Homo sapiens: one gene and its partner. The protein of the gene in region 1 purifies or fractionates together with the protein of each later gene. This does not show direct contact. Each region holds a gene or a part of one and is shown in the gene's direction. Other genes may lie near its edges.

The links. Proteins that work in one complex are often made in the same cells at the same time.
Region 2: the proteins of INHBB (region 1) and ACVR2B purify together in Homo sapiens (affinity purification with western blotting; 2 studies listed by BioGRID and IntAct, with this or other methods). This does not show direct contact.

The regions. Positions count from the first base shown.
Region 1 is NC_000002.12:120,349,018-120,352,338, forward strand, and holds the end of INHBB (inhibin beta B chain preproprotein), read left to right. Parts: intron 1-81; coding exon 82-857; 3' UTR 858-2,786; downstream 2,787-3,321. UniProt on the Homo sapiens protein: Inhibins and activins inhibit and activate, respectively, the secretion of follitropin by the pituitary gland.
Region 2 is NC_000003.12:38,474,237-38,477,889, forward strand, and holds part of ACVR2B (activin receptor type-2B precursor), read left to right. Parts: intron 1-3,050; coding exon 3,051-3,258; intron 3,259-3,624; coding exon 3,625-3,653. UniProt on the Homo sapiens protein: Transmembrane serine/threonine kinase activin type-2 receptor forming an activin receptor complex with activin type-1 serine/threonine kinase receptors (ACVR1, ACVR1B or ACVR1c).

The DNA.
Region 1 (3,321 bases):
TCCTGCAGCAGAGAGTGTGTTTCCCCCATTGCCTTGTGTTCTCCTTGAATTAACTTGGCTCGCCCTTCCCCTTTTCCGCAGATGGCCTCGCCTCCTCCCGGGTCCGCCTATACTTCTTCATCTCCAACGAAGGCAACCAGAACCTGTTTGTGGTCCAGGCCAGCCTGTGGCTTTACCTGAAACTCCTGCCCTACGTCCTGGAGAAGGGCAGCCGGCGGAAGGTGCGGGTCAAAGTGTACTTCCAGGAGCAGGGCCACGGTGACAGGTGGAACATGGTGGAGAAGAGGGTGGACCTCAAGCGCAGCGGCTGGCATACCTTCCCACTCACGGAGGCCATCCAGGCCTTGTTTGAGCGGGGCGAGCGGCGACTCAACCTAGACGTGCAGTGTGACAGCTGCCAGGAGCTGGCCGTGGTGCCGGTGTTCGTGGACCCAGGCGAAGAGTCGCACCGGCCCTTTGTGGTGGTGCAGGCTCGGCTGGGCGACAGCAGGCACCGCATTCGCAAGCGAGGCCTGGAGTGCGATGGCCGGACCAACCTCTGTTGCAGGCAACAGTTCTTCATTGACTTCCGCCTCATCGGCTGGAACGACTGGATCATAGCACCCACCGGCTACTACGGGAACTACTGTGAGGGCAGCTGCCCAGCCTACCTGGCAGGGGTCCCCGGCTCTGCCTCCTCCTTCCACACGGCTGTGGTGAACCAGTACCGCATGCGGGGTCTGAACCCCGGCACGGTGAACTCCTGCTGCATTCCCACCAAGCTGAGCACCATGTCCATGCTGTACTTCGATGATGAGTACAACATCGTCAAGCGGGACGTGCCCAACATGATTGTGGAGGAGTGCGGCTGCGCCTGACAGTGCAAGGCAGGGGCACGGTGGTGGGGCACGGAGGGCAGTCCCGGGTGGGCTTCTTCCAGCCCCCGCGGGAACGGGGGTACACGGTGGGCTGAGTACAGTCATTCTGTTGGGCTGTGGAGATAGTGCCAGGGTGCGGCCTGAGATATTTTTCTACAGCTTCATAGAGCAACCAGTCAAAACCAGAGCGAGAACCCTCAACTGACATGAAATACTTTAAAATGCACACGTAGCCACGCACAGCCAGACGCATCCTGCCACCCACACAGCAGCCTCCAGGATACCAGCAAATGGATGCGGTGACAAATGGCAGCTTAGCTACAAATGCCTGTCAGTCGGAGAGAATGGGGTGAGCAGCCACCATTCCCACCAGCTGGCCCGGCCACTCTGAATTGCGCCTTCCGAGCACACATAAAAGCACAAAGACAGAGACGCAGAGAGAGAGAGAGAGCCACGGAGAGGAAAAGCAGATGCAGGGGTGGGGAGCGCAGCTCGGCGGAGGCTGCGTGTGCCCCGTGGCTTTTACCAGGCCTGCTCTGCCTGGCTCGATGTCTGCTTCTTCCCCAGCCTGGGATCCTTCGTGCTTCAAGGCCTGGGGAGCCTGTCCTTCCATGCCCTTGTCGAGGGAAAGAGACCCAGAAAGGACACAACCCGTCAGAGACCTGGGAGCAGGGGCAATGACCGTTTGACTGTTTGTGGCTTGGGCCTCTGACATGACTTATGTGTGTGTGTGTTTTTGGGGTGGGGAGGGAGGGAGAGAAGAGGGGGCTAAATTTGATGCTTTAACTGATCTCCAACAGTTGACAGGTCATCCTTGCCAGTTGTATAACTGAAAAAGGACTTTTCTACCAGGTATGACCTTTTAAGTGAAAATCTGAATTGTTCTAAATGGAAAGAAAAAAAGTTGCAATCTGTGCCCTTCATTGGGGACATTCCTCTAGGACTGGTTTGGGGACGGGTGGGAATGACCCCTAGGCAAGGGGATGAGACCGCAGGAGGAAATGGCGGGGAGGAGGCATTCTTGAACTGCTGAGGATGGGGGGTGTCCCCTCAGCGGAGGCCAAGGGAGGGGAGCAGCCTAGTTGGTCTTGGAGAGATGGGGAAGGCTTTCAGCTGATTTGCAGAAGTTGCCCATGTGGGCCCCAGCCATCAGGGCTGGCCGTGGACGTGGCCCCTGCCCACTCACCTGCCCGCCTGCCCGCCCGCCCGCATAGCACTTGCAGACCTGCCTGAACGCACATGACATAGCACTTGCCGATCTGCGTGTGTCCAGAAGTGGCCCTTGGCCGAGCGCCGAACTCGCTCGCCCTCTAGATGTCCAAGTGCCACGTGAACTATGCAATTTAAAGGGTTGACCCACACTAGACGAAACTGGACTCGTACGACTCTTTTTATATTTTTTATACTTGAAATGAAATCCTTTGCTTCTTTTTTAAGCGAATGATTGCTTTTAATGTTTGCACTGATTTAGTTGCATGATTAGTCAGAAACTGCCATTTGAAAAAAAGTTATTTTTATAGCAGCAAAAAAAAAAAAAAAAGAATACAGTTAAATGTATTATACATAATTTTGGAACCAAAGAGGCCAACAGATCAGTTTTAATTTTATTAGACGGTGAGGCCATCTGAGATGAGGTGGACGTTCTGAGCAGTCCCTTGAGTGGCCTGCCAACGTTTCAGGGTATGAATGGATTTTGTTTATTCGGTTTGATGTGTCTTTTCCATCCTTACACACCCAGAAGGTAGAGTAAAAATGACTATGATAGAATGCAGGTGTGTATCCTTAAATCCTCATCTTTATGTTTATTTAATAAAGCTCCCCTTAGATTCTGTTTCATAATAATTTAAAACCAAACAATTTTCCCATAGACTTGCTGTTAAAGTATTGTACGTTTGTGTACAGTTTAAGAAAATAAAAGATTGAGTGCCACGGGCCTCCTGCCTTGCGTGATGTCTGGGGCAGGGAGGCCTGGGCTGGAGGTGGGCAGCTGGGAGGAAGGCCAGTCCAGGTGTCCAGGTTGGATGCCAGCAGCTTCCACGGCCTGCTCCTGGCATCTCTGCGTCCTTGCCATGAGATGTATGTCGGGCAGAGATTCCAGGAAAAATGGCTGAAGATCAAAATGAAGGACAATTAGCAAATTCATGAATTACACATTTGTTTATCCTGCTAGTCCCAAGATTGATTATGTTTCACCAAGGCCACATCCATTACCATTTGCAAGTGCTGGGTAAGCCCCCGTCCCCAGGTGGAAATGTAAAACCCTGAAGGCTGAAGTCCAGCTAACCTCTGCTCACCTCTATTTGGAGGTGACTGGGACCTAGAAGTGGCTTGGTATCTTGGGATAGAAGGGTAAACAGAGTCAGGCTGTGAGTGTACGAAGGAGCCCTTCCTGAGGGGGTTTTCCCGGTGGAGAGTGGTGGTAGGGGCGGTGTAGTAATAATGGCCCACTGCGCAGGTGTAACTG
Region 2 (3,653 bases), on another chromosome or scaffold:
ACTTGGGTACTGCCCATGGTAGTGGCAAGTGGGTGGTCCCTGACTTATCAGTGGCCTGGAGAGAGGAGGTTACTCTGTTGGCCTCCCTTGTTTGGGCTCCTGCCTCAGCACAGAGGCTTGTTGCTTGTCTGAATGGAGATGGAAACTCTTTGAGGACCTAGGGCTTGGGCTGCAGGCTGAGGCCATCCTTGTTGTCCCCTCCTTTCGACATGTTGCTCTAGCCATGATACCTATACCCTTCTGTCCTTCTGTCTGTCCACCCATCCATCTATGATGTGTTTGGAATGATTCTGCCACTTAGGACGGCAAGGGTCCTGCCTTTGTCGGCTTTCCAGTCTTGTGGGGAAAGCCTGACATTTAGAAAGTAGTTGTCGAGTACATGTGTAATGTTTTATTTCTCATACAAGTGTTCATTGTGTTATTTCCTCTTGAGATTATTTTTGGTTATATTATTGGTACACTTTTTGGATGTCTGAAATAATCCTTTAAGCAACAACAGGCCATTAGTCAAGGGTGGTTAAGTTAGGTGGCAGGGGAAGCACAAGGGCCAGTGGAAATAGAGAGTTTGCCTGGTCTCAGGGGAGAGGGAAGAGCCGAAATCAGAGGAAGGTGGGTAACCTTACGGCCAGAGGTGGTAACTTCCGACTTACGCTAAGCCTAGAAGCCAAACACATTCAAGGGTGTGACATTATGGTGTGGCTGCAGTGAGGGGAGGAAGGTAGGGGAGTGCCCAGCTTCCCTGTCTGCAGTGCAGCTTCATGGCTGGCCCCACAAGTCTCAGGTCTCCACGGACCCCCACTAGAACTGCTGCCGTGGATGCAGTGGGGCCCAGCCTGGGGAGAGGAGGCCCTGTGGCCTCTGGGCAGGGTGCTTCGAATAACCCAGTAATTGGGTGCTGCTGCAGGCAGACAGGGACAATGTAGGTGCAAGCCTCAGTCCTGGCCCCGGTGTGCTTGTTCAGCCTTTGGTCTACTACCCCCACCCCACCCTCTCAGGTTCTCCCTCTAAACCTTAAAGCCACATGCTTGATGAAGGGCCTGGCTGGGGAAGCCAGTGTGTACCCTTGTAAGCCTCTCTGTGGACCCTGAGGCCCTTCCTTTAGAAGAGGCTGAGTCCCAGCTGACTGACTGGTCAGGAGGCCATGCATTTTCCTTTCACAGGTGTCAGAGCCTAGGCCACCTGGTGCAGGATGACCAGAGCTGTGGCTGGGCACTGCCATTCTGATTGGGTGACATTTCGGACCCTTAGGTGCTACCTGGATCCTTGAGATTCGTTGCTTGCTCCTGCCCCTGGAAGAAGCATCCTGTCACTTCAGGGAGTTGCAGAAAGGGGTTGGGTTTGACAGGAGAATGGCCGCTCCAGTGGTGGGGGGCTTCTTTCACCTGACAGCCAGTCAGTATCCTTCTCTCTGGGGTATACCCTGGGAAATCAAGCTCTTTCCTCATGAAGGCCAACAGTAGGGGTGGAGATGAGCGTGAGGATGTCCTTAGGCTACGCTAGTGTTCAGGGTACTTTGCCCTCCCCCAGGGTCAGGGCAGGGTTCGTGTTCTTTCCTACTCCAGTCAGCCTTTCAGGCTGATGGCGAAGTAGGGCTCTTGGCTGCTGGTGGGCTGGCTGTCTGGTGGGATTGACTCTGACCCCTCCCTCCTTCCTGGGATGGGAATAGTGGTAGGAGAAGACCAGCCAGGAGTGGTGCCAGGTCACTGGCCTATGTGGGCCCAAAAAGTGTGGATAGGATGGCTGGATGCTTGGTGCAACTATCCTCTCGGGTGTCTGTGTGGGGTTCTGGCAGTGAGGTTGTAAATGCCACCACCTGCCTCCATTGTGGGCGGCCTATAATGGGGTGCTGGCAGAGCTCTCAGACAGAACCGAACCTCCTTTGGCATCTCCATACTCTTTCCTATGTCAGGGCTATGTGGTTCCTGCGGGTAGTGGGAGTAGACTGGGGCTGGGACTGGAGGTTGTTTTGTAGGGGATGGTGAGGAAGATGGATTTGGGGAATGTTTGAAATCAAGTTTGAAGGAAAGTGTTTGAATGGGCAGGTGGGGGTTGAAGTCGTTGTCCACCTGGATGGCACTTCCTGCAGCAGGTGGAAGGGGGTTCAGAAGTGATGGGGAGTGCCCTGGGGTCATCAGGAGCCTAGCCAGGAGAATGATCTGTGATTGCAGGTTAAGCCACCAGCTAGCTCTCCTCTGCCTGAGGCATGTATTCCCCTTGGTGACTCTGGGAGGCTTACCCTGTACACGCAGGCCTCATTCCTTAAGTTCTCCAGCCCTGCCGAGCACCAGGTGTGGTTGCTGGGTGTAGAAAGGACACTTACAGGGTCCTTTCCATTCCGTATGGGCAGGGAGTTGTGGAGGACCCACTGGCATGGTCTCCCTGGGGAACTGTTGTGAGAAGGGGGCTTGGGGGCAGAGACAGGAGCAGCAGGAAGCCACTCCCCTTTGTAGTTTTCCCAGGTGGTCCTTGAGATCTTTATCACAATCACCTGAGACAGACAGGGGTGATTAAAAGCACATATTCTGCCCCCATTCCCATTGGGATGGGTCTGGATTGGGCCTGGAAATACGTATTTGAATGAACACTGCTCCCCTTTCCCACACCTGCAACATACAGTGATTCCGATGTGCACTGGGGTTTTAAGGGGGCCTCTTCATCGGTTTCTGCTGCAGCAGGGAAGTAGCCCCCACCCCCACGCAGGAGCCTCAGGTGTTGGTGCCCTTTCTGTGCATCTGGACTCTGTCTGTCTGGCTGTTTATCCATCCTTCTGTGGCATTAGGTTTCCTGCCTCCTCCCTTTTGCTTAGGCCTAGGGGCAGCTGTGATGGGCTGCAGAATGAGGTGGGGGCTGGTGCCAGCTGGCACACGTAAATTAAGAGGTGTGGGACGGATGGGTGGCCTACGTCCAGGGGTGAGTGCAGGAGGTTGGTGACCCCAACCCACCACCCGGCCTCCCTCCCTCAGGGTGGCCTGGCACCCAGGACTGGGAGTAGGGGTTTGGGTGGTGGTCCCAGGGGCATGCTCAGTGGTTCTCTTTTCTCTGGGGCACAGGCTCTGGGCGTGGGGAGGCTGAGACACGGGAGTGCATCTACTACAACGCCAACTGGGAGCTGGAGCGCACCAACCAGAGCGGCCTGGAGCGCTGCGAAGGCGAGCAGGACAAGCGGCTGCACTGCTACGCCTCCTGGCGCAACAGCTCTGGCACCATCGAGCTCGTGAAGAAGGGCTGCTGGCTAGATGACTTCAACTGCTACGATAGGTACCCCAAGACTTGCCCTCCTTTCCTCTTGGACCCACCTGCGCTTATACTGCCCACTGGGCCATTTGGGTCTCAGGATGTCTGAGTGGGAGATAAAGGACCAAGAAGGGGCTCTTGAGATGGTAGCCATGGCCCCACGCCCTTCCACACCCTATTTGTCCTACCTTAGCCCTGAGGAGGGGTCTCAGTGTCAACCCCTGGCTGTTCTTCCTTGGCTTTGGGTCTCCTGTAGGGGAGGTGAGTTCACACCGTCCCCCTGGTGTTGCCCATGAGGTGCTCTGTCTGTGAGGAGGGGTTGGCAGGGCAGGCCTGGGGGAGTCTTGCATCCCCCAGGTGAGGGGTATATGGAAAATTCTGTGCCTCCAGGCAGGAGTGTGTGGCCACTGAGGAGAACC